Linked DNA regions of Homo sapiens: regions 1 and 2 are each linked to region 3. The links come from fine-mapping of genetic effects on gene expression. A gene starts in region 3. Each other region holds a variant in brackets. All regions are shown on one strand. Distances are between the middles of the regions.

Region 1 (8,139 bases), 22 kb after region 3:
AATGTCTGGGTGCACAGTCTAAAGAGGAAATGCAATAGAAACCTGAAATTTCTCTAAGCGCAGCAGAGGTTCCAGCGAAGTTCCTTTATGGAATAACTACCTCAGGAGTCCTTAATACGTGTTGTTGATTGAGTGACTCTTCCCAGGGGGAGAGTGTATCTGTTGGTTGGCTGGATTCTCATCAGAGCCAGAGCTCTGCCCTCCCTCTGGCTGTGTATGAGAGTTTTTGTTTCCTTTGTAAACTCCCTTTCCTGAGGAACAATGAGGCTCACTTGCTAGGGCATGCCTCTGTCTCTAGATGTGTTTGTGTGGGGCTGAGCGTTTAGTCGGTTGGTTTGTGCGTTAGTCAACCTGTGGCAGTACCTGTGTGTTTATCTGATTCTTGAGTGTGCGTGTCGTTGTGTGAGTAGTTGTGTCAGTATGTGTTCTACATGAGTCTCCCCCCACCCCCAAGGTTCTTGTTTTAGAAAGTGTTAAATGAATGATTACAATCAGTTTGGTGTATGTAGATTCCCTGCCCTTAGATGGATTGACTGCTCATTTCTACCTTATCACAACATAAACCCTTGGGAGAGATTGGACCAGAGGCATATATCATCCTCTTTCTATTTTACTGATAAGGAAACAAGTCCAAAAGGGGAAATGACTTCAATGACAATAGAGTTAGGGGTGGAACCTGGGAATGGAACCAAACCCTCTTGACTTGCTTTTCCTTTTTCCATTCTTTGATCCAGCATCTCAGGCACCCTATAGCACAAGAACTGTTTGGGATACTGCTTCAGAATCTACTGTCTTACTTACCTTTAAACTTACTTTCCCACTAGCTTCTTCATTCATGTCTCCCTCTTTTTTTTTTTTTTTTTTTGAGTTAGAGTTTCGCTTGTTGCCCAGGCTCGAGTGCAATGGTGCCATCTTGGCCCACCGCAACCTCCGCCTTCCGGGTTTAAGCGATTCTCCTGCCTCAGCCTCCCGAGTAGCTGGAATTACAGGCATGCACCATCACGCCCGGCTAATTTTTTGTTTTTAGTAGAGATGGGGTTTCACCATGTTGGTCGGGCTGGTCTTGAATTCCTGCTCTCAGGTGATCCACCCGCCTCGGCCTCCCAACGTGCTGGGATTACAGGTGTGAGCCACCGCGGCTGGCCATGTCTTCCTTTTTTTCTACTCTTTGAGTTCCCTTTTCTTTAATTTCCCTTTTTTCCCTACCCCTTGCCTATTTTACTTCTGCCTGTATTTTAGAACTGCTAGTGACACCCATAGTCAATTTTTGGTTATGTGGTTCTGGTACTAAAGGTTTTTCCAACCTTTGTACTGTGCCAGTATTTTTCCCCTAAGCCCAGAAGTTTCTTCTGTGTGAGTGACTGTATTTGTAACAGTGTTTGTCTGTGACAGTATTTGTCAGGCTTAAAAGCTTCCTGGAGCTGCTTACTCCCTATCCTTTGCCACTGCTTCCTTTCTTTTTTCTCCCTCTAATTTCCTATATTATTTATGATAATCCTAAAATAATCATATACTGGCACTGGAAGGTCATGATAACACCATTTTGAGCTTGGAGGTGTCTTCAGGGAACCAAGCCACAGTAGTGCAGAGGGAACCTGAGATGATGTCGCATTAGCCTGTTAGGACAGTGGGTCCTGGGAAGTGACTTGTCCAGGGGATGGAGGAACTGACCTTGTAACTTTTAAATCAGGCTAGATCTGGGGTTGGGTTGGGGGAGGGGAGTGATTTGGTTAGTGCAAATGAGGATGGAAATGGGAGCTGGGCCACCATACCTGCATTCTAGCTTGGCTTTCTCTCTGCCTTGTTTGTGATCTTAGGCAGTAGCTCAGTCTTTTCATCTGTAAAATAGCAGTAATACTTGTCCCACCTTTGTCAGGAGGATCAACCAGCATAATAGTTACATTACATATACATGAAGGGATTATTTTTGGGCAGCTGTTATCCCCTGTGGATTTTGTGAGGATGGAAGAATGCCAGAATGCTGTCCCTAGCTGAGTAGGTAAAAAAGGAAGCAGGGAGATCCCAAATGGCTAGAGTCAGAAATCAAAAAGCAGGAGCTTTTTCTTGGGTGTCTAGCTTGTCCACTGTCCCTGAGAGGCGTGGATAGGTTGCCCATATGTTCTCCCTGTTCTTCATTGTGGGCTCTGCTGTCAGGGAGGAAGTAGAAAAGGCAAGATAGGACTGACAAGTCAGGCAAAGGCCTGGCCCCAGCTTGGGGAACCTAATGGAGGGGAAACCCTGACCCTGTGGGGCAGAGATCCAGAGGGTAGACACTGGGAGAGCTGGACTTGGGAAAAGTAAAACTGATGACCCAGAGTACTAGCCTCCCTTTCCCTAGGGAACCTGTCCCTTAGAAAAGGTTCAGCTGTCTACCAGGTAGGGAGAGACACAGTAGAGGTGAGTGTGGATAGGTCAACTTACAGTGTAACCACAGGGGAGAGAGGGAAACCTGGGTTGGAATGCTGGCATTTGCTCCCCTGCCCTTCCTTGAGTGTGGTATCATCACTGAAGAGTTCCGCGTGGGCAGGGCAGAACTGCTGCCCTGCTTCTGGGTCATTCTCTGAGTCCCAGTGTTTACTATTGATGTTTCTGACTCAAGCCCTTCTAGCTTTGCCCTTTCAGGGGCAGGCATACCTCAAAACCGTAGACTGGTGTGAAGGTGTGGGTTGCCCCTCCACACCTGTGGGTGTTTCTCGTAAGGTGGAACGAGACTTGGAAAAGAAAAAGACACAGAGACAAACTATAGAGAAAGAAATAAGGAGACCCGGGGAACCAGCGTTCAGCACATGGAGGATCCCGCCAGCCTCTGAGTTCCCTTAGTATTTATTGATCATTCGTGGGTGTTTCTCTGAGAGGGGGATGTGTCAGGGTCACAAGACAATTGTGGGGAGAGGGTCAGTAGACAAACACGTGAACAAAGGTCTTTGCATCATAGACAAGGTAAAGAATCAAGTGCTGTGCTTTTAGATATGCATACACATAAACATCTCAATGCTTTACAAAGCAATATTGCTGCCCGCATGTCCCACCTCCAGCCTTAAGGCGGTTTTTCCCTATCTCAGTAGATGGAACGTACAATGTCTTGGTTTTATACCGAGACATTCCATTGCCCAGGGACGGGCAGGAGACAGATGCCTTTCTCTTGTCTCAACTGCAAGAGGCATGCCTTCCTCTTATACTAATCCTCCTCAGCACAGACCCTTTACAGGTGTTGGGCTGGGGGACAGTCAGGTCTTTCCCTTCCCACGAGGCCATATTTCAGACTATCACATGGGGAGAAACCTTGGACAATACCTGGCTTTCCTAGGCAGAGGTCCCTGCGGCCTTCCGCAGTGTTT[T/G]TGTCCCTGGGTACTTGAGATTAGGGAGTGGTGATGACTCTTAAGGAGCATGCTGCCTTCAAGCATTTGTTTAACAAAGCACATCTTGCACAACCCTTAATCCATTTAACCCTGAGTTTGACACAGCACATGTTTCAGAGAGCAAGGGGTTGGGGGTAAGGCCATAGATTAACAGCATCCCAAGGCAGAAGAATTTTTCTTAGTACAGAACAAAATGGAGTCTCCTATGTCTACTTCTTTCTACACAGACACAGTAACAATCTGATCTCTCTTGCTTTTCCCCACACTGGTGAGTCACTCCTCCTTTCCTCTCCCTCTACTCCCAGGAGTGAATTGTTCCCTCCAAACTAGAAACTGGTGACTGGCACTTCCTAGTTCTACCTGGAACTAGGAAACGAGTGGCAGTGGAATTTCAGTGTCCTTTAGTCTTTGCCTTCTGGCTCCAGATCACTTTTTTTTTTTTTGAGACGGAGTCTCATTCTGTTACCCAGGCTGGAATGCAGTAGCATGATCTTGGCTCACTGCAACCTCCACCTCCCGGCTTCAAGCGATTCTCCTGCCTTAGCCTCCCCAGCAGCTGGGACTACAGGCACGCGCCACCACGCCCGGCTAATTTTTTGTATTATTTATTTATTTATTTGTTTTTGAGACAGAGTCTCTCTCTGTCGCCAGGCTGGAGTACAGTGGCACGATCTCGGCTCACTGCAAACTCCACCTCCCGGGTTCATGCCATTCTCCTGCCTCAGCCTCCTGAGTAGCTGGGACTACAGGCGCCCGCCACCATGCCTGGCTAATTTTTTCTATTTTTAGTTGAGACGAGGTTTCACTGTGTTAGCCAGGATGGTCTTGATCTCCTGACCTCATGATCTGCCCGCCACGGCCTCCAAAAGTGCTGGGATTACAGGCGTGAGCCACCGCGCCCGGCCCCTAATTTTTTGTATTTTTAGTAGAGACGGGTTTTCACCATGTTGGCCAGGCTGGTCTCGAACTCCTGACTTCAAGTAATCCTCTTGCCTAGGCTTTCCAAAGTGCTGGGATTACAGGCGTGAACCCCTGCACCTGGCCACTCCAGACCACTTTTACCTCACCATGTTGCTCTTCAGTTCCTTTGTGATCATGTCTTGTGGAGTCTCCAGCCCAGTTCCGATTCAAGATAGAGCTACTGTGATTTTTTTTAAAAAAATTTAATTAGAATAGGTTAATTGACATGGTTTTATAATTAAAATGATATCAAAGGGGTGGGGTATCTCATTCCCATGTTGCTCCTGTTCACCCCAAACCCCAATAGTTTCTAATGTCTCTTCAGTGTTTCATTTTACAGATACAAGTATATATAAATAATACTTGTTTTTTCTCCCCTTTCTGACACAAAAAGAGGCATACTACATATATTCTACATCTTGCTTATATATATATATCATGGAGTTTTGTTGTTGTTGTTGTTGTTTTTGAAACAGGGTCTCACTCTGTTGCCCAGGCTGGAGTACAATGGCATGATCATAGCTCACTGCAGCCTTTTTTTTTTTTTTTGAGACAAAGTCTTGCTGTGTTGCCCAGGGAGGAGTCCAGTGGCGTGATCTTGTCTCACTGCAGACTCTGCCTCCCAGGTTCAAGTGATTCTCCTGCCTCAGCCTCCCGAGTAGCTGGGACACAAGCGTGCACCACCATTCTTGGCTAATTTTTGTGTGTGTGTATATATATATATATATATATTTTTTTTTTTGAGATGGAGTCTGGCTCTGTCACCCAGGCTGGAGTGCACTGGAGCAATCTCGGCTCACTGCAAGCTCCGCCTCGCGGGTTCACGCCATTCTCCTGCCTCAGCCTCCCGAGTAGCTGGGACTACAGGGGCCCGCCACCACTCCGGCTGATTTTTTGTATTTTTTTTAGTAGAGACGGGGTTTCACCGTGTTAGCCAGGATGGTCTCGATCTGCTGACCTCGTGATCTGCCTGCCTCGGCCTCCCAAAATGCTGGGATTACAGGCATGAGCCACTGTGCCCAGCCTTTTGTACATATTTTTTTAATTTAATTTTTTTTTTTTGAGATGGAGTCTTGCTCTGTTACCCAGGCTGGAGTGCAGTGGCGTGATCTCGGCTCACTGCAAGCTCTGCCTCCCGGGTTCACGCCATTCTCCTGCCTCAGCCTCCCAAGTAGCTGGGACTACAGGCACCCGCCACCATTCCCTGCTAATTTTTTTTTTTTTTTGTATTTTTAGTAGAGATGGGATTTCACCATGTTAGCCAGGATGGTCTTGATCTCCTGGCCTTGTGATCTGCCCCCATTGGCCTCCCAAAGTGCTGGGATTACAGGTGTGAGCTGCCCGGCTAATTTTTGTATTTTTAGTAGAGATAGGGTTTCACCATGTTGGCCAAGCTGGTCTTGAATTCCTGACTTCAAGTGATCCGCCTGCCTTGGCCTCCCAAAGTGCTGGGATTACAGGCATGAGCCACCGTGCCTGGCCTCACTGCAGCCTTGACCTCCTGGGTTCAAGCAATCCTCCAGTCTTAGCCTCCTGAATAGCTGAGGCTATAGGCAAGTGTGAGTGGTGAGCCATACCTGGCTAATTTTTTATTTTTTTAGTACAGACAGGGTCTCATCTGTTGTACAGGCTGGTCTTGAATTCTTGGCTTTAAGGGATCCTTTTGCCTTGGCCTTTCAAAATGCTGAATGACAGGTATGAGTCACTACACCTGGCCCATATTGGTTTCTAGGGATTGTGGCCTTGGCTGTTAGGATACATCCCACCCCCCTCCAAGTCAGCTGAGTTCAATTTGCACTTGTTCTGTGGACACATAAATGGGCAACACACGTTTCCACCACACCCAAAAATAGATTTAAATGCCATGCACATTTTATGTGATAATAATGAGACTTGTTTATCACATCTGTTAGGTTTGACTAGAGACCCTGGAGATCTCTAAACTCAAACCAGTTTCTGTTTCAGAGATTCAGGAAAGACCTGGATGACCTTGCGTCCAACATAATTGAGGATGAGGTTTCACTATTGTGTGACGGTTGTGGAAAGCAGTATGAGTGAACACATACTGTGAGAGTGGATACACACTAGGGTTTTCCTGGCATTGAGAACCCAGAGTTCATCTGCCTGGACTCCCTGATAAGCAGGGTTTCTGTCTAAAGTCCGGCTGCGTCATTTGTTTCACAATGTAGGGGCGGAACAGGAGGAAGCAGCTGGCTGGCAGGAAGTGGGTGCTGGGCCCCTGAAGTAAGTCCTGCGCTGGAAGGCTCGACCTTCCCTTGCACTGGGAAGATGGGGTGGCGGGGGAGCTGAGCAGGTAGAACCGGAAATTCTGCAGAGAGGGCGGGAGGGAGCCAGGGAGTGAAAGCGAGCCTGTCTTACCCTGCCATTACCACTTTCTGCCATCCTCAGAGGACCCGAGCCAGCTGATCGACATCACTGAAAGTGCAGCCAAGGATGGCTATTTAGACATAGCCCAGCCTGTTGTTGGCCTCACAGAGCCTTCCTCTTGCTCACACATTTCTAAACTGTTCTACCCCAAACCCCGGAAAGGCCCTTCCCTGTGGAACTTCCCTGGCCCATGGAGCCTCTTGATCTTTACGAGGAGGCCAACCCTTATGGGAGTTACTTCAATCTCTACAGGGTGAGTGGTGGGGAGGAAGGGGAAAACCAGAGTGGAAGCTCTAGGTCCAGGTTCTAATTGTATTGCAGTGTGAAATTCACTTGTTAATCCAACAAACATTGGTGTTTACTATGTTCTGAGCACTGTGCTAGAGATTAGGGGGAAAACATGAAGTTAAACTGGGTATGCTGTAGCTGGTGGGGTGAGGAGGCCCTGACTCATCCTTCCTATTGCAGGGCTCCAGCTCCCTGGCAACTGGGGGGTCTTGTGAGTCTCATATGCCCAGAGGGAAGTTTGGATGAATTCTTAGAGAAAACCAGAGAGAGACTGGTTGACTGTTTTCCCTCCTTTTCCCCCTCCTCCTCTTTCTTCTTTTTTTTTTTTTTCCCTAAATGAACAACAGACACCAGGGCCTACTTGAGTTTAGAGGATGGGAGGAGGGTGAGGATAGAAAAACTACCTTTTGGGTACTTTGCTTATTAGCAGGGTAATGAAATAATCTTTACACCAAACCCCGACGACATGTAATTCATCTATATAACAAACCTGCATATGTACCCCTGAGCCTAAAATTAAAGTTAAAAATAAATAAATCGGCCGGGTGCAGTGGCTTACGCCTATAATCCCAGCACTTTGGGAGGCTGAGGCGGGTGGATCACCTGAGGTCAGGAGTTCAAGACCAGCCTGGCCAACATGGTGAAACCCTGTTTCTACCAAAAATACAAAAATTAGCCGGGCATGGTGGTGGGTGCCTATAATTCTAGCTACTTGGGAGGCTGAGGCAGGAGAATTGCTTGAACCCAGAAGGCAGAGATTCCAGTGAGCTGAGATCATGCCATTGCTTTCCACCCTGGGTGACGAGAGCAAAAACTCTGTCTCAAAATAAATAAATAAATAAATAAATAAATAAATAAATAAAATTAATTAATTCAAACGACACAAAAGCAACTCAAGGAAAATTCTTTTTTTCTTTTATTTTTATAGAGATCAGAGCCTCTCTCTTTTTAAAATTTGTTATATTCTTTTTTATGTTGTATTTCTTCTTTTATGTTTTGTTATTGATATCCCTGAGGCATAGAGATGGGATCTTTCTATGTTGCCCAGGCTGGTCTTGAACTCCTGGGCTCAAGTGATTCTCCCATCTTGGCCTTCCAAAATGCTGCGATTATAAGCCTAAGCTGCTGCACTGCACCTGGCCAG
Region 2 (8,000 bases), 45 kb before region 3:
AGTAAGGGAGGAAGCCTGGCTCCAGATTGCCCCAGGAAGCTGGCACCTGGTAGGAGGCCACTCTGCTGCTGCTGCAGCAGCTACAACCTGCACAGAGCTGAGGTTGCTCTGGGGGCTGGAGGCTCCTAGCCTGAGGATCAGATGGTCCTACCTCCACTACCACCCCCATTCTGGCTCTTCTGTGTGTAGACTCTCCTTAATGGCTCCCAGGAACCTGGAATGTTTCATGTCTCTGAAAAAATCCTTGGACTGGGAAGTCAGGAGTCTTGGTCCAGATCCCGTTTCTGCTATTAATCTATTTGGTAACCTTGGGCAGCGATGAAACCAGACTTCAGTAGACCGAGAGCTAGGACCAGATGATCTCTATTGACCTTCCAGCTCTGAAATACGATGACTCTGTGATGGTCCAGGCCTGGCTGAAGTGGGGTGCTGGGGTGTTGGAAGGGTCACTGGGTCTGGCTGTGGAGATAGGAGGAGGAAAGCGTTCTGGTCGCATCTCTCAGAGGGTACCAGAGTACCTTTCCCCAGGCCTTCCTGGCCCTACTGCAAATTCACCCCCCACCCAAATCCTGGGCCATTAGAGCTCTGAGCCCCAGGGCCCTGCCCCACCCCTGACAGGGAAAGGAGCCCAGGCTTGGGAGGCGCCTCAGCACCACAGCTCTTTGTCTCTCCTTAATGGGTTGAGTTTCCGGGTGAAGTCTCCTCCCTTCTCCCTCCCCCATCTCTTGCCCTGGGGCTGAGGGACCCAAATCCACGAGACACCCCTCCCCCCATTAGGATCCTAGTCCCTAGCTCTTTGTCGGGTTCAGGAGCCCTGCAGGACCAAAGGGCAAGTGGTGCTCTGCATTCTGAGGTCTGCCTTCTGGGGGTTAGGATCAGCTTTCTGTCTGAGGTTAATTTCCTTGAAAGGGAGGGGCCCATCCTTACTTTTCTACTCCTGTTTACAGAGGGGGGCAGGCCCTTTCCTGTAGGACCTACCCAAACCCAGGGAAGCCAGCAAGGGAGGTGGTGAGAACTGGGAGAATCCCAGGGAAGCCCTGTGACCCCAGTGACCTTGTTCCCACCCTAGTGTTTAAGGAGGCCGGGCCAAGGAGAGCCTAGCTACAGAGATGAGGAGGTTAGAGTTCATGATTCCATCAGCCAGACCAGAGCCTCAGGATCTGGGGGTCCTCTAGGCAAAGTGAATGGGGATTAGCTACTTTGGGGCCCAGTGAGGAGAGAATGATTGGATGTTCTAGCCTCCAAAAACTTGCCCTTGCTCTGACCGAAGTCTAGGCAGAGAGAAGGGATGGAGGTGATGTGGGGAACGAAGTCAGAAGGGAAGGGAGTAGAGAAGCCTAGGGTCTTAATTTGGGAAGAGAATCTAAATGAGGAGGGGGCCAGGCGTGGTGGCTCACGCCTATAATCCCAGCACTTTGGGAGGCCAAGGCAGGTGAATCCCTTGAGGCCAGGAGTTTGAGACCAGCCTGGGCAACACGGCAAAATCCCGTCTCTACAAAAAATACAAAAGTTAGCCAGGCATGGTAGTATACCTGTGGTCCCAGCTACTTGGGAGGATTGCCTGAATCCAAGGAGACTGAAGTTGCAGTGAGCCATGATCGCGCCACTACACTCTAGCCTGGGTGACAGAGTGAGACTCTGTGTCAAAAAAAAAAAAAAAAAAAGAGGAGGCGAAGTTCAGAACTGGGGAGACATCTGCCATGCCTCCTAAAGGAAGGCCGTGGAGAAGGCGGCTGAGGTCACTCTTTCACTGGAACAGGCAGCCTCTGGCCTCAGGAGATTTTCTCATAGTTTTCTGGCCACCCCCACCCCCTTCCCTCTAAATCTGGTGTGTCCTGAGAGCTGGAGTTGAGGCTGTGATTTGGGATGGGGCAGAGCTGGCCATGGTGGGTGGAGGGGCAGTGTGGAGCAGGGGTTAGGATCTCAGGAGTTTGGGAGAAGCTGAATCCTGGTTCTCCCACCCACAGTGTGGCTGTTGTGGTGACTCAGCCAGGCTCAGACTCTGGCTCCGGGGGGTTTAGGGGACTTATCTGTGCTGGGAGCTGTGTCTGGGCCAGAGTGGGGCTGCCTCAAGGCCTGTCCTCCCCATTGTTCTCATCTCCCTTTGTGATTGTGTGGCCCCCCTCCCCAGACACTAATCTGTGGGTGGGCGTTTTGCCCAGGCTGGGAAGCTCTCACTAAGCTGGGGGGCTTAGTACAATGGGGGGTAAGTGAGGGAGGTGGATGAAGGCGGAGAGGGAATCTTCTGGTTTTTAAAGTTCCTTAGCACTCCAAGGCCAAGGTTATGGGGCAAAGAGTGGATGGAAAGGGGTTTGCTGGGTTGTTTGTGTCACCTGTCCTGGATGGTGAGCTTCGGTGCGTCCCTCCTAGGTCCTTTCTCACCCCAGACTCACCCACATACTCCAGCTCTCGGTGGAGATTGTTGCTGTCAGGTAAGGGGAGGCAGGAGTTAACAAAGGAGCATGAGACCCTAGACAGCCTGGACCCCTCCCCCTAGCCCCAGGCAGGATTCCCCTCACCCCCCCAAACCCACACCAGACAACCCTTACCCAGGCCTGGAGCCAGAGCTGGTTTTTCTGGTGGTGGCAGCAGCAGAGCCCTGACAGAGATTCCCAGGGAGAGGCCTCCTTGGGGGGCCAGAGCTGCTGAGGGGCCCAGGGGAGTGGCTGGGGGTAGTGGTGAGAAGGTTGGCAGTCCTTTTAGTAGGAACCTGAGGAGCAAGGGGAGAGGGAACATTTGTTTTGTTCTGCTGGGGAGTCCTTAATGGCAAGTTCCCATCACCTGGAGGGACAGTGACCTCATCTCTGGGTACTTCCACCTTGAGCCTGAGATTAATATGTCTTCAAGTCTTGGGGTAAGGTGGGGAAGGATGCTGGGGGTGACATTCCAGGCAGGATGCAGAGGCAAAGGCTCACAGCCACATACCACAGACCAAGGGCAGCTGAGACAGAGAGACATGTGGAAGCCAAGATAAACCGACAGCAAAATATTTACTATGTGTGCAGAGTTCCGCGAGACAAGAATGCACTCCATGCATACAGAGGGTGTGACATGCACACGGAATCATGTGTGCACACACATTCACACATACTGATACACAGCTCTTCCCTCTGGACACAGACAAGTAAGTACGTATATGCCCCTAAGATAAGACATGAACACATATATGTGCCAAACACCCACCAGTTTATGCAAGAAGATAGCCTCACATGCGTTTGAACCAGCACTAAGATTGGCCAGGCCCTCAGCCACAGCTCCCCATACACAAAAAACTCATACTTACTCCCTTCCTCCTTCTCACAGACCCACCTCTACGATCCCCTACATTCACATCTGTAAGTCCCAGCAGGGGATACTGATGGAGAAAGGCCCCTCATA[A/G]AGAAAAGATACTTCCTTAAAGATGCTCTTGATGGCTGGGTGTCAGCAAGTGCCAGCCTCAGTTTCCCCTCCTGAGATCAGAGGCCAGGCTCACATAGGAAGGAAAGTTGAGACCCAGGCATAGGGTGGGGAAGAGCCAGCCAGCCCAAACCTGGAATGGAGGGCCTGTCTGGGAGCGGGCGGGGTACACAAAGGGCTGGGCTCCAAAGAGGCCCGTGGGGGCCTGGCCAGGGTGGGGGAGGCCAAGGGCAGGGATCCCGTCTGGCCAGTTGGGCCTGTTCTCTCCCTTGCGCAAGGTGGTGGTGGCTGTGGCTAGGCTTGCTGCTGTGAGGCAGCTTCTGAGTCACCAAGGCTCCTGACCAGCGTCCTGGTACTCCAGGGAGGAGGGGTGGGAGGGTCAGAGGGAGGAGTGTCTAACCAGCCGGAGTCCACCAGCCTCAGTAAACAATTTGCAACAGAAGGGTCCCTGGGCTTGGCCTGGCCTGGCCACCACATGCCCTCAAGGTGACCTCACCAGGCAGGCAATGTGTCTCCTTTGGTCTGATGACATCATCATGCTGACGCCAGGCTGACACTGGGTGGAGGAGAGAAGGAGGAGGCAGTCCTGGCCTGCCCTGGCCTGGAAACCTGGACTTCTGGGTCTGTTTAGACAAGGACAGGGATTCTAGGGCCCAAATTCTATTTTCTCTTCTCTTGTACCCTAGGGTGGTAGGGGGGTATGCAGCTGGAGGAGGGTGTTGCCTCAGGCTGAGATGTTCCTACTAAGTAGTGGATTTAGAACAATGAGGATCTGTGGGAGATATCCAGAAGGGAATTTCCTGTTTTACTGGGTTCCTCGGTCTGTGAAGCTTCAGTGTGTCCCCTAGGGGTGGGGATCGTGGACTCACAGGTGAGAACATGGAGGATTGACATTCAGGCATGCGCTGGGTATCTAATGCCTGCTGTACCCTAAGAAGGTATTTTCCAAGGGAAATATAGGTGATTAGTGGTGGGGAGGCAGCAGGTGGTTGGCTAGTATAGGAATAGGGATGGAAAATATGCCATCTGATATTGTCTCAGAAATAGTCTTTAGAAAGGTTTGAGTGTCCTAATGGGGCAGGTCTTGGGATCCCTGTGACCTTCACAGACACCAGCGTTTGAAGCAGAGGATATGTTGTGCTGGAGATCCCCTACCCAAGCTCACTCACAGCCCTTCCTTGGCAGCCCTGTTCTTTCCAGTGCCAGGAGGAGAAAAAGCCTGGGAGGGGTGCGGGTGGTTAGCTGGACTCCCAGGCTGGGCTGGGTGGGACCAACATTAGCTTAGGCAGGTCAGGGCTCTGGTATCTGGCCCTGCAGGTCTATCCTGTCCCATCTGGGCCCTCTCAGCATCCTTCTTCCCTCTCCTTCTGGTAGCAGGGCCACAGGAACCCCTTCCTGTGCTCTATGTGCTGCCTCACTAAAACTCTCTGATCCATTCTGGTGGGGCTTCATTTCCTCCCTCCATGCCTGCCTCCTTCCATCCCTATTTTTTTCCTCTGTCCAGTCTGGAGGTGCTCCCTTTGGCAGTGAACCCAATTAGCTAGCCCAGCCTATCCTGCCTCCACCCCAAGGTTACCATGTAATGTTCCTCCCTGGCCAGCCCAATGCTTGTTCCTCCTCATTTTTTTTGGTGGCGGGGGGATGGTGTCTTGCTTTGTTGCCCAAGCTGGAGGTCAGTGGCATGATCTTAGCTCACTGCAACCTCCACCTCCTGGGTTCACCAGTTCTCCTACCTCAGCCTCCCGAGTAGCTGGGACTACAGGCGCCCGCCACCACGCCCATCTAATTTTTTTATTTTTAGTAGAGACAGGGTTTCACCATTTTGGCCAGGCTGGTCTCAAACTCCTGACCTCAGGTGATCTGCCTGCCTCAGCTTCCCAAAGTGCTGGGATTAGGGTGTGAGCCACTGTGCCCAGCCTGTTCCTCCTCATTCTACACTTTCCTTCTGTCTCTCTCATTTATTAATTCACCTGTTCATTCATTCACTTGGTCAATAAATGTTGACGGAACCCACATACCACTGAGCACTAAATCAGAAACAATGGTTCCAATGGTGATGTGAGGCCCAGAAAATAGGGATAAAGTGCTGTGATGGGAATGAAAGCAGGGTGCTGGGGAGCACAGAGGAAGGGCACCTAATGCTGCCTGGGGTGGGGGTGGGAGGAGGGAGGACTCCTGCTGGAAATGATGTCTAAGCGGAGTCTTAAATGATGAGTAGGTGCTACCAGATATAGGGAGGAGGGCATTCCAGGCAGCGGGTACGGTGTGAGCAGAGGTGAGGAACAACAAGGTGTGTGGCTTGCTGGGCAGAGGCAGGGACAACACACTGTTGGGGGTTGCTGGGGCACGCGTTCCAAGGCAAGGAGCTCCTGCCATCCCAGCATGTTCCTTTGCTCTGCCCCCAGGCCCCAATCCCCATATTTCACTTTTGATTCCATGACTCCAAATTTATTTCTTCCCAAAAATGAACATCCTCAGGCCCTGTCTCCCTCATAAGTTACTCATCCTAGAAATTTAGGAGCTGCCTTTGAGTCTTTCCTCTCCTTCATCTCTCTTTCTGGTCAGTGACCAAATCCCTGTCAAATCTCCCCCCAGAACTGTCCCCTCCTCTCCACCCTAGCACTACTGCACCCAGGCTGCAGCTGCAGCCTTCAGTGACTGCCCCTCACCACTTGCTCATGGCACTCCCTGGCTAAGGAACCTTTAGTGACTCCCCATTTCCTCTTGACCAAGTATGAATTCCTTTGCTGGTATGGAAGTTCCCCGGTGATTTGGCCCCACCCTGTCCCAACCATATTTTCCACTCCTGCTCAACACACACACCCTGTCTTAGGCTGGGTCCTCTCCTCTTTGCTTCCTAAACAAGCCACCTTCTCCATCTCCTTGGTGTTTGCTCACCGTGGTTCCTGATTTAGAATGCCTTTCTAGGCCTCTCTCCCTCCTAATCCTACCCAACTCATGCATGGGGCCCTCCCAAATGATTCAGTCCCATAGTGATTGCCCCATCCCACAGTTGGCCTGTAACACACCCCTGAGCACTAAATCAGAAACCATCATCACATGTTTCCATATGTGTCTCCATATGTATCTCTTGCTCCTGAGCAGAACTCAAGTCCCATGAGAGCAGGGAGTGGATCCTTATTTGCAGATAAGGTGACATGATGGATAGCTCTGATTCCAGAATCCCTGAGGGCTTCATTAATATGCTAAATACTAGCCCTTTGTACTAGCCCTTTGTCCCTTGTCCTCCGATTCCAGCTTACAATTCTGACCCGGTTGTTGTGTGTCTGCCCTGATCTCATCTCTCTGGGCCTCTGACCTGGGCCCTTTCTGTCTTTAGTGGCTTGCTCATTCCTGCCTCTGAGCCTTGGTTCATGCCTTTCCTCCCACATGGAACATTTCCTGCGCTATAGGAATCCAGGTCTCTCATCTTCAAGCCATGAAAAGAATGTTCCAAAGGGCCTACTGAATAGACCCTTCCTACCCTATGTGCCCCATTCCAGACACCAACAGTTTTGGATTCTTGCCGTGGCTCCCGGCCACACTTTCTGAAACTATCCACTTTTTCCCGGTTGGTGGGTTGAACCTCTTCTGAAAGTTTGTTCATGGCTTTCCCTGTTTCTTTGTGCATAAATTCTATTTTCCCTGATGACTGTGAGCTCCCTGAGGGCAGAGGCTGGGTCTCCTGTTCTGTTACAGCCTCCCACCTTGCAACTGCTCAGGATACAATCCTAGGCTGCAAGAGGGTGTGAGCCTTCCATAAATCGTCTGTGTGGCCTTAGGCAAGCCACTTCCTCTCTCTGGGTCTCAGTTTCCTCATCTGTTAAACGGTGATAATAACGCCTACCTCTTGGGAAGGCGTTTTGTAGATTTAATAAGGTAATGAACTGAATGTGCTTTGCAAGCCCAAATGCTCCAGGAGTTCCGGTCACCTTTGCTGTCATTATCATTATGACTGTGCTCCCCCAGCTCTGGCAGCACCCCTAATGGTGGCTGTCCCTCTCTGCCCCCTGCAGGCCGGTGCCCCGCGGGTGAGCTGGAGACCTCAGACGTGGTAACTGTGGTGCTGGGCCAGGACGCAAAACTGCCCTGCTTCTACCGAGGGGACTCCGGCGAGCAAGTGGGGCAAGTGGCATGGGCTCGGGTGGACGCGGGCGAAGGCGCCCAGGAACTAGCGCTACTGCACTCCAAATACGGGCTTCATGTGAGCCCGGCTTACGAGGGCCGCGTGGAGCAGCCGCCGCCCCCACGCAACCCCCTGGACGGCTCAGTGCTCCTGCGCAACGCAGTGCAGGCGGATGAGGGCGAGTACGAGTGCCGGGTCAGCACCTTCCCCGCCGGCAGCTTCCAGGCGCGGCTGCGGCTCCGAGTGCTGGGTAAGCGGGGATCTCTGGGTACGGTCTGAGCCGCTGTGGATGCAGGGGGAAGCAGAGATGGGGACTGCAGAGATGGATGGGGCAGAGGTAGAACAGGAATAAAAAGTGGGGTCATGTTCAGGTGAGGGAGCTTCATCCAGCTAGCTATCCTCGCACCCAATCCAGAAATTCTCTCCAAGTAACCCCAAAAGCTGGGGAAGAATCCATTTATTAGGAAGTTCTTCCTTC
Region 3 (8,347 bases):
AGAAAGGCAGTTAACTCACAGACTTTTCCTTTGTTCTTTTAATTCAGGTGCAGTGGCTACTGGGGAAGACCCAACCAGTGTGGCTATTGCCAGCATCCAGTCAGCTGCCACCTTCCCTGACCCCAACGTCAAGTACGTCTTCCGAACTGAGAATGGGGGCCAGGTAAGGGAGGGGGCCAGGTGGCTGCAGGTGTTATCTGGGGTTGGGATTGAGGGAGGTAATTGAACATGTCTTGGGGAGACCTGGCTTGGAGGATGAGTTGAAAGAGTGGACTGTTGCAGGGGAGGGAGGTGCTAATACTGGAGTAGAGACTGGTGTGAGGTTAGATGTATGCTGAAACCTCTGTGTGGGGAAAGAAGGGAGAATGGCTGAATCCATGTCTCTGAAGGACTTTGTTTTGGGGCCCTATCCAAGGGAAGCTTTATGAGGGGCCCTAGGATTCCCAACACTTAATCTTTTCTTCTCTCTTCACTCCCTCTGCCTTCCTCTACACTTCTAGGTGATGTACAGGGTGATCCAGGTGTCTGAGGGGCAGCTGGATGGCCAAACTGAGGGAACTGGCGCCATCAGTGGCTACCCTGCCACTCAATCCATGACCCAGGTACAGGGTATGGGCTGGGGAGGTCACTAGAGTTCTGAGAAGTAAGATGAAGAAGGGAATCAGTAGGATGGGGGTGAAGCTAGGAACAGTGAGGCATCTAAGGCTGCCTTGTCCCAAAGCACTAGGCTCTCCTTTTCTGGATGTTTCTCTCTCTCTCTCTCTCTCTCTCCACCCTACCTACCACCCCAACGGATAGAAGCTGCAGAGTGGTGTAGTGGGAAGAAGTTTTTGACTGTTACCAGAATCAGTTTTCTTGCTCCCCTTCCCAGGCGGTGATCCAGGGTGCTTTCACCAGTGATGATGCAGTTGACACGGAGGGGACAGCTGCTGAGACGCACTATACTTACTTCCCCAGCACGGCAGTGGGAGATGGGGCAGGGGGTACCACATCGGGGAGTACAGCTGCTGTTGTTACTACCCAGGGCTCAGAGGCACTGCTGGGGCAGGCGACCCCTCCTGGCACTGGTGAGATATTGCATGAGGATGCTGGCTGAAAGGGCTAGAATAGGCTGTGGGACATGACTGGTAGGCAGTGAGCCTTCACTCATGACTCTTAGTGATCATTAAGACCTGGACAGGCAGTGAGTCTGGGGCTGCTCTTCTATTAGCATGTTCTTTTTAGAGGAGGGGACCAGGGTCTTCACCTCAGGGCTTGGTGAGGTTCCTACCCATGTCCTGACAGAACCTACCCTGCATCTTCACAGGTCAATTCTTTGTGATGATGTCACCACAAGAAGTACTGCAGGGAGGAAGCCAGCGCTCAATTGCCCCTAGGACTCACCCTTATTCCCCGTGAGTGACCCTTGTTTCTTCTCAGATTCCGTAAGTGGTTTTTTTTTTTTTTTTTTTTTTTTGAGACAGAGTCTTGCTCTGTCACCCAGGCTGGAGTGCAGTGGCATGATCTCAGCTCACTGCAACCTCTGCTTCCAGGGTTCAAGCGTTTCTCATGCCTCAGCCTCCTGAGTAGCTGGAACTACAGACATGTACCACCACCCCTGGCTAATTTTTGTATCTTTAGTAGAGACAGGGTTTCACCATGTTGGCCAGGCTGGTCTCGAACTCCTGACCTCAAGTGATCCGCCTGCCTCGGCCTCCCAAAGTGCTGGGATTACAGGTGTGAGACACCACACCTAGCTACCATAAGTGGTCCTAATACCTGCTAAATCTTGTATAATTCCTTAACCCCAAACTTCAATCATGTATTTTGTCTTCTTACTCTGGCCACCCTGGGCTCTGTTGTCAGGAAGTCAGAAGCTCCCCGGACGACTCGGGATGAGAAACGCAGGGCTCAGCATAATGAAGGTAGGTATGATCTGGGTGGAGCTAGAAGCTGTCTGGTGTGATCTCAGCAGTGATGTCTGAGGGGAGGAGGGATTAGGTAATTTTACCCTGGGACTTGTGGCGAGTTTTCACTGAGTCACCTTGTCCTCCACTTTGCCCCACAGTGGAGCGTCGCCGCCGAGACAAGATCAACAACTGGATCGTGCAGCTCTCCAAGATAATCCCAGACTGCTCTATGGAGAGCACCAAGTCTGGCCAGGTCATGGAAAGACCCTGGTAGTGGGCAGGATGCCTGAATTCTGCCTCCTGGTATTGTTTCCAGAAATGGTAGAGAGAGGGGCACACATGACAGTAGTCTTATCTCTCCCTGAGGTTCCTGTATCCCTGGGAGATATTATACCACCTTCCTTAGATGAAAATGAGGTCCAAAGTGTGAACCTACTTTTGGAAAGCAAGCTGGGTATCTGAAATCCTAGTTCTCATTTTGTTGACCTTATCTTGCAGAGTAAAGGTGGGATTCTATCCAAAGCTTGTGATTATATCCAGGAGCTTCGGCAGAGTAACCACCGCTTGTCTGAAGAACTGCAGGGACTTGACCAACTGCAGCTGGACAATGACGTGCTTCGACAACAGGTCAGACTCCTACCCCCAGTGCAGCCCTTCTCAGTTCTGCTAGCCACTGACCCAGTTTGACACCCTCTACTTTGTTCTCCATGGAGAAGGCTTCATCTTTTCCCCCTCACCAGTGGATGTCTGAATACATTCAGGGGCTTGGAAGTGCCAGCTTTACTACCCATTCCCTTTACTGCCTCCTTCCCATGTCAGGTGGAAGATCTTAAAAACAAGAATCTGCTGCTTCGAGCTCAGTTGCGGCACCACGGATTAGAGGTCGTCATCAAGAATGACAGCAACTAACTATGGGGATTCAGGGGCTTTGGGCCCAAGAACTGCAGATAGCCCAGGAGCAACAGCCTAATCCCGTGCCCCTTTCCTTCACTGCCCCACTTCTGGCATGGGACAGGGGGAAGTTCAGAAGGTGTGTCCTTGAACTGAGGCCCTGTGATATGGCGGCCTGCAGTGGTGTGAAACACACAATGTGGACGTGCACTGACAGCCTTGCCCACCCCCACCATGCAGCCCCTGGGCCCTTGTGCTCCTCTCGCACAATGCATGTGCTGTCTCCATGCTGGATACTGGACACACTAAACTCTGGGGCTTGTCCTGTGCTTGCTTAGAGTGCCCAGCAGAGGTTTGCTGACAGGTGATGCTCTGGCTTGCCCCAGGACTCTGGCACTTCCATTGGTTCTTCCTTTCCCTGGAGCTGAGGTTTAGATGTGCAACCTGTGGCTCAGGGGAGCAAGCTTACACAAGAAGTGAGGGAAGGATGTTTAGCAGTGGCTGGTGCCCATGAAGAGGAGATTGGCCAGTGAGAAGCTGAGGCCTATGCAGACATCTCTGGAGCCAGAGAGAACAACAGGCAGGGGCCCACTTGGGGCCTTCCCCCTTGTGGGGGTCGTTTTTTTTTTTTCTTTTCTTTTTTTTTTTTTTTTTTTTTTTTTTTTAAGATAAAATTGTTCAAAGCCACAGTTGTCTGTTTTTCTTCCTTTTGTGGGCCACGGGCTGGAAGGGAGGGGCACATTGCTCTTCGACCAGTAAGGGCTGTGCCAAGTTCAGGGTGGGGTGCTGCTCCTGCATTTATTACCCGGAGTCCTGGTTCCTGGGCCAGACCGGTGTGTCGTTTTTGGCCCAAGCTAGAGAATGTTAAGGGCTTCTGCGGTGGGTTGGTGCTAGAGGCGCCGCGAACAGGTGCTGCGGGGGCGGCGCGGGAGGCGGTGCCCTTGCTTCCGGATCCGGTCTCAGCTCTGGGAGGGAACGGGAGATGTTGCAGGCGCCGAGAGGGCGGGCCAGGGCCGCACTCCGGAGACTCGCGGTTGCTACGCGCACCATGGCTGGAGGTACCTGCGGGGGATTCCTGGGGCCGCGGTTCTCTTGGTCCTCTGGGTTGAGGCGTGGCAGGGAGTGGGGTGGCGGAGCGAAGGGGCGTGGCTGAGGGGTCTTCGTGCACACCCTACCGGGAGGGGCGCTGCCAGGTGAGGGGATGCCATGGCGGCCGTGACTCCTAGGCCCCCTCTTCCTGAAGGCTGTCGCGCCCCTTCCTCAGCGCCCACGGTCTCGCTTCCTGAACTCCGTTCACTCCTAGCCTCCGGACGGGCCCGGCTCTTCGACGTGCGCTCTCGCGAGGAGGCGGCAGCTGGGACCATCCCAGGGGCGCTCAACATCCCGGGTATAGGGTGGAGAGGGGACGCCCAGGTGGTGGAATAGAGACCGTTCAGGAGGTTCTTTGCCAATGGGACCTCATTTAGGATGGAATGGGGAAGGCACTGATTATGGGGGTCCTGCATTCCCGGGAGCCAGCCCTCAGCTTCCGTAGGAAGGACTGATGGGGGGCGGATCTTGGCATCGGAACTGGCCCATCCAGTTTGAGAAGACAGCAGGCGGAGAGGAGAGGGGCAGACCAGCTTCTCTTGACCTCCCCAAATCTGGACGCCTGAGGGGGCATCCCGCCCCGCCTCCTCACAGCTTAGGGAGTGGCTTGCATTCAAAAGTTGTCGGTTTCTGTTCCTTGAAATTGGGGTGGGGGTAGGGGATGGTTATCATATGTTGTTTGGGGGCCCCCAGGACCCAGCCCTTCCAGGCCCAGCTTCCGAACCTGAGTGCCAAATTGCTGGCTTTCCCTTCTACCCTCTCCACTCCTCCAGTGTCCGAGTTGGAGAGTGCTCTGCAGATGGAGCCAGCTGCCTTCCAGGCTTTATATTCTGCTGAGAAGCCAAAGCTGGAAGATGAGCATCTCGTTTTCTTCTGTCAGATGGGCAAGCGGGGCCTCCAGGCCACGCAGCTGGCCCGGAGTCTTGGATACACTGGGTACGGGGAGGTGTGGCTGCTAGCTGGGAGGTGATGGGGACTGCCTGTCATTCCTGTCAGTCTCTCACGCTTCTTTGTCTCCACAGGGCTCGCAACTACGCTGGAGCCTATAGAGAATGGTTGGAGAAAGAGAGTTAGGCAGGAGGCAGCTTACTGATTGCCACCCCCTGGCCCCTTAATGGCCACCTTAACTAAGGGTGTGAACGGGCTGACTTGGTGAATTGGGCAACTCCTTATAGTGTTGTGCACACAAAAGCATCAAATAAAGAACATTTAATCAAAGTATTGGAAGCACTTAATGTGTCAGGTGGACTGAAAACAGTTCTAATCTTTATCTAGACCTCAATTCAGCCCTGGATCATCATTTCGCAGCATTCATCTGCTTCCCCCTAGCACTCCCCACATGCAACATTCTAGCAGTTTCCTGAGAGGCTACAATGTACAGTTCTTCTAGAATAGCTGTTTTCAGCCCAGAATGCACATCAGAATCACCTAGTAGGTTTTTTTGTTTGTTTTATTTTTTAATTCAGAATATGGAGGGTGGAGCCTGAGCATTAGTGGCTTTATGGGCCCCTGGGGTGATTCTCATATACAGCCAGAAGCAGGTACCACTGCTGTAGACCAGAGGTCAGCAAACTATGGCCCCAACTGGCTGTGCTGCTGTGAACTTTGGTTATTGTCTATGGCTGCTTTGTCCATGGATTGAGGAGGTGAAAGGGCAATCCCAGGCCTTTGGGTGAGGGAATGGATGGAACCCTTCATCCCTACTGATGTGTCATGCACAGATTACAGGTGTGAGGAGCCTTTCCTGTGCCACCAAAACCAGGTTTCGTTTTTTTTTTTTTTTTGAGACAGAGTCTTGCTCTGTCACCCAGGCTGGAGTGCAGTGGCACGATCTCGGCTCACTGCAAGCTCAGTCTCCCGGGTTCACGCCATTCTCCTGCCTCAGGCTCCTGAGTAGCTGGGACTACAGGTGCCCGCCACCACGCCCAGCTAATTTTTTGTATTTTTTTTTAGTAGAGACGGGGTTTCACCGTGTTAGCCAGGATGGTCTCGATCTCCTGACCTCATGATCCGCCCACCTCGGCCTCCCAAAGTGCTGGGATTACAGGCGTGAGCCACTGCGCCCGGCCTCAGGTTTCTGTTTTTATCAACACTGATCTCTTATACTGGATTTAACAAATTTAATTGGTTGGCCAGGCACGGTGGCTCATGCCTGTAATCCCAGCACTTTAGGAGGCCAAGGCAGCGGATCACCTGAGGTCAGGAGTTTGAGACCAGCCTGCCCAGCATGGTGAAACCCCATGTCTACCAAAAATAAAAAAATTAGCCAGGTGTGGTGGTGCACACCTGTAGTCCCAGCTACTTGGGAGGCTGAGGCAGGAAAATTGCCTGAACCCAGGAGGCAGATATTGCAGTGAGCTGAGATAGTGCCACTGCACTCCAGCCTGGGTGACAGAGAGAGACTCAGTCTCAAAAAAACCAAAATTTAATTGGTTAAAAAGATGAAATTACACATGCTTACTGAAACAAAATTCAGCACTACACAGTAGGTATATGACTTCCCTCTAGTATAGTGTATAGTTTGATGCATAATACATTTTAAATATTTTCATGGCAGAGTTTTTACTTCTTAAGTTTGATTTTTGGAAAATGTATTCCTTAATCTGTGGAAGAGAAGATTGAGTCAGAAATGAATCCAGTTTTCTGATTTTTCATGCCTCTGAAGAACTTCTTTCAGGCATTTCCTGCATTCCTTGCCTGTCTCTCACCTCCTTTTCTTCCCTTCTGCCTTCTCTACTATACCCAGCCCTCCTACATTCATTCATTCATTTATTTATTTTTGAGACGGAGTTTTGCTCTTGTTGCCCAGGCTGGAGTGCAATGGCGTGATCTCAGCTCACCGCAGCCTCTGCCTCCCGGGTTCAAGCAATTCTCCTGCCTCAGCCTCCCGAGTAGCTGGGATTACAGATATGCGCCACCATACCCAGCTAATTTTGTGTTTTTAGTAGAGACGAGTTTTCCCCTCCACAGGTCTTTATTATAATTTGGTTATAGCATTTTATTATTATTATTGGCATAATTTACTTAACAATAAAACGCACAATTCTTGGCCCAGTATGGTGGTTCATGCCTGTAATCCTAGCACTTTGGGAAGCCGAGGCGGGCGGATCTCTTGAGGCCAGGAGTTCAAGATCAGCCTGGTCAACATGGTGAAACCCTGTCTCTACTAAAAATACAAAAATTAGCTAGGCCTGGTGGTGCTCGCTTGTAGTCCCAGCTACTCTGGTGGCTGAGGCATAGGCATGAGAATTGCTTGAACCCAGGAGGCAGAGGTTGCAGTGAGCCGAGGTCACGAGACTGTACTCCAGCCTGGGCGACAGAGCGAGACTCTGTCTCAAAAAAAAAAAAAAAAATGCACCATTTTCTTTTTTTACCCTGTGGTTGGCAGTTTATTTTAAAAAAACAACGCCCCAGTTATCACAGTTTCTTTTTAGTCCATTTTCCATAACAAAAGAAGCTACACAAAATTTGGAGGAAGATACTGTCCTTGCAGACTGACACAGTCTGCAAGAGGGGTCATGAATAATAATGATTTCAAAGCCCCTACTTTAACTCCTGAATTGGGCAAAGAATAAATGACAATATAAGAATGAATTTTGTTTGCAACAATATCATAATATAGCATTAATTATTACAGTGCAGTGGTTGTAATTAAGTTCACAATAAAATATTCTTAACCCAAACACCAGACAAACTAAAATCACTAGACTGCTCATGAACTGAAATGATCAGTGCAAGCAGTTGTTGTCTCAGTAATGAAAACCAAAATTGGAAAGGCTTTTCTGGCAGGGAGTCTCTGACATGAACGGCCCCCTCTCTGTTCATTGAGGCCCAGGCGCCCTCACTTGGAGTCTTGGTCTTTCTTTTAATCTAAAAGGGCAGAACAGAGCCCCAGCTTTTTCAGTTCTTTCACCAGGTACCCATTCTAGTACATATGCATAAGAATGTCACAGCCCCCCACAAACTCGCCATTGAGGTATCCATTGAGGATAGTGGGCCAGTTGGAATAGTCTTTTTTGTTTTTGAGACACAGTTTCGCTCTTGTTGCCCAGGCTGGAGTGCAATGGGGCGATCTCAGCTCACTGCAACCTCTGCCTCCGGGGTTCAAGTGATTGTCCTGCCTCAGCCTCCCGAGTAGCTGGGATTACAGACATGTGCCACCATGCCTGGCTAATTTTGTATTTTTAGTAGAGATGGGATTTCTCCATGTTGGTCAGGCTCGTCTCAAACTCCCACCCTCAGGTAATCCGCCCAGTCTCAAACTCCCACCCTCAGGTAATCCGCCCACCTCAGCCTCTCAAAGTGCTGGGATTACAGGCGTGAGCCACCGCACTCGACTAGAATAGTCTTTATTTTATTTATTTATTTATTTATTTATTTATTTATTTATTTATTTATGAGACAGAGTTTCACTCTTGTTGCCCAGGCTGGAGTGCAAGGGTGCGATCTTGGCTCACCACAACCTCCGCCTCCTGGGT

What was found.
Region 1: its variant is fine-mapped to the expression of TSTD1 in whole blood (INTERVAL, PIP 0.99).
Region 2: its variant is fine-mapped to the expression of TSTD1 in cerebellar hemisphere (GTEx, PIP above 0.99). The same link has a PIP of 0.9 or more in cerebellum.

What each region holds. Positions count from the first base shown.
Region 1 is chr1:161,012,320-161,020,458 of GRCh38, reverse strand. All of the region lies in intron 1 of F11R (F11 receptor), which reads left to right. Among named protein-coding and RNA genes, the nearest start is that of F11R, 4.8 kb to the left of the region's middle. RefSeq lists enhancers at 1-66, 3,957-4,554, 6,196-6,415, 6,826-6,975. The variant T/G (reference allele first, on the strand shown) is at 3,339.
Region 2 is chr1:161,079,362-161,087,361 of GRCh38, reverse strand. NECTIN4 (nectin cell adhesion molecule 4) reads left to right here. Exons shown (of 9, transcript NM_030916.3): 2 at 7,413-7,772. It overlaps NECTIN4-AS1 (NECTIN4 antisense RNA 1), which reads right to left and starts at 3,536. Exons shown (of 4, transcript NR_183641.1): 1 at 3,284-3,536; 2 at 2,550-2,710; 3 at 2,334-2,425; 4 at 1-459. The variant A/G (reference allele first, on the strand shown) is at 3,379.
Region 3 is chr1:161,034,371-161,042,717 of GRCh38, reverse strand. TSTD1 (thiosulfate sulfurtransferase like domain containing 1) reads left to right here and starts at 3,754. Exons shown (of 4, transcript NM_001113207.2): 1 at 3,754-3,838; 2 at 4,045-4,167; 3 at 4,643-4,805; 4 at 4,892-5,087. The coding sequence starts at 3,829. The coding sequence ends at 4,943. USF1 (upstream transcription factor 1) reads left to right here. Exons shown (of 11, transcript NM_007122.5): 4 at 48-163; 5 at 501-602; 6 at 872-1,067; 7 at 1,307-1,394; 8 at 1,846-1,904; 9 at 2,048-2,142; 10 at 2,388-2,516; 11 at 2,709-3,467. The coding sequence ends at 2,798. It also overlaps the pseudogene GLRX5P2. RefSeq lists enhancers at 802-961, 3,776-3,825, 6,553-7,058, 7,059-7,565.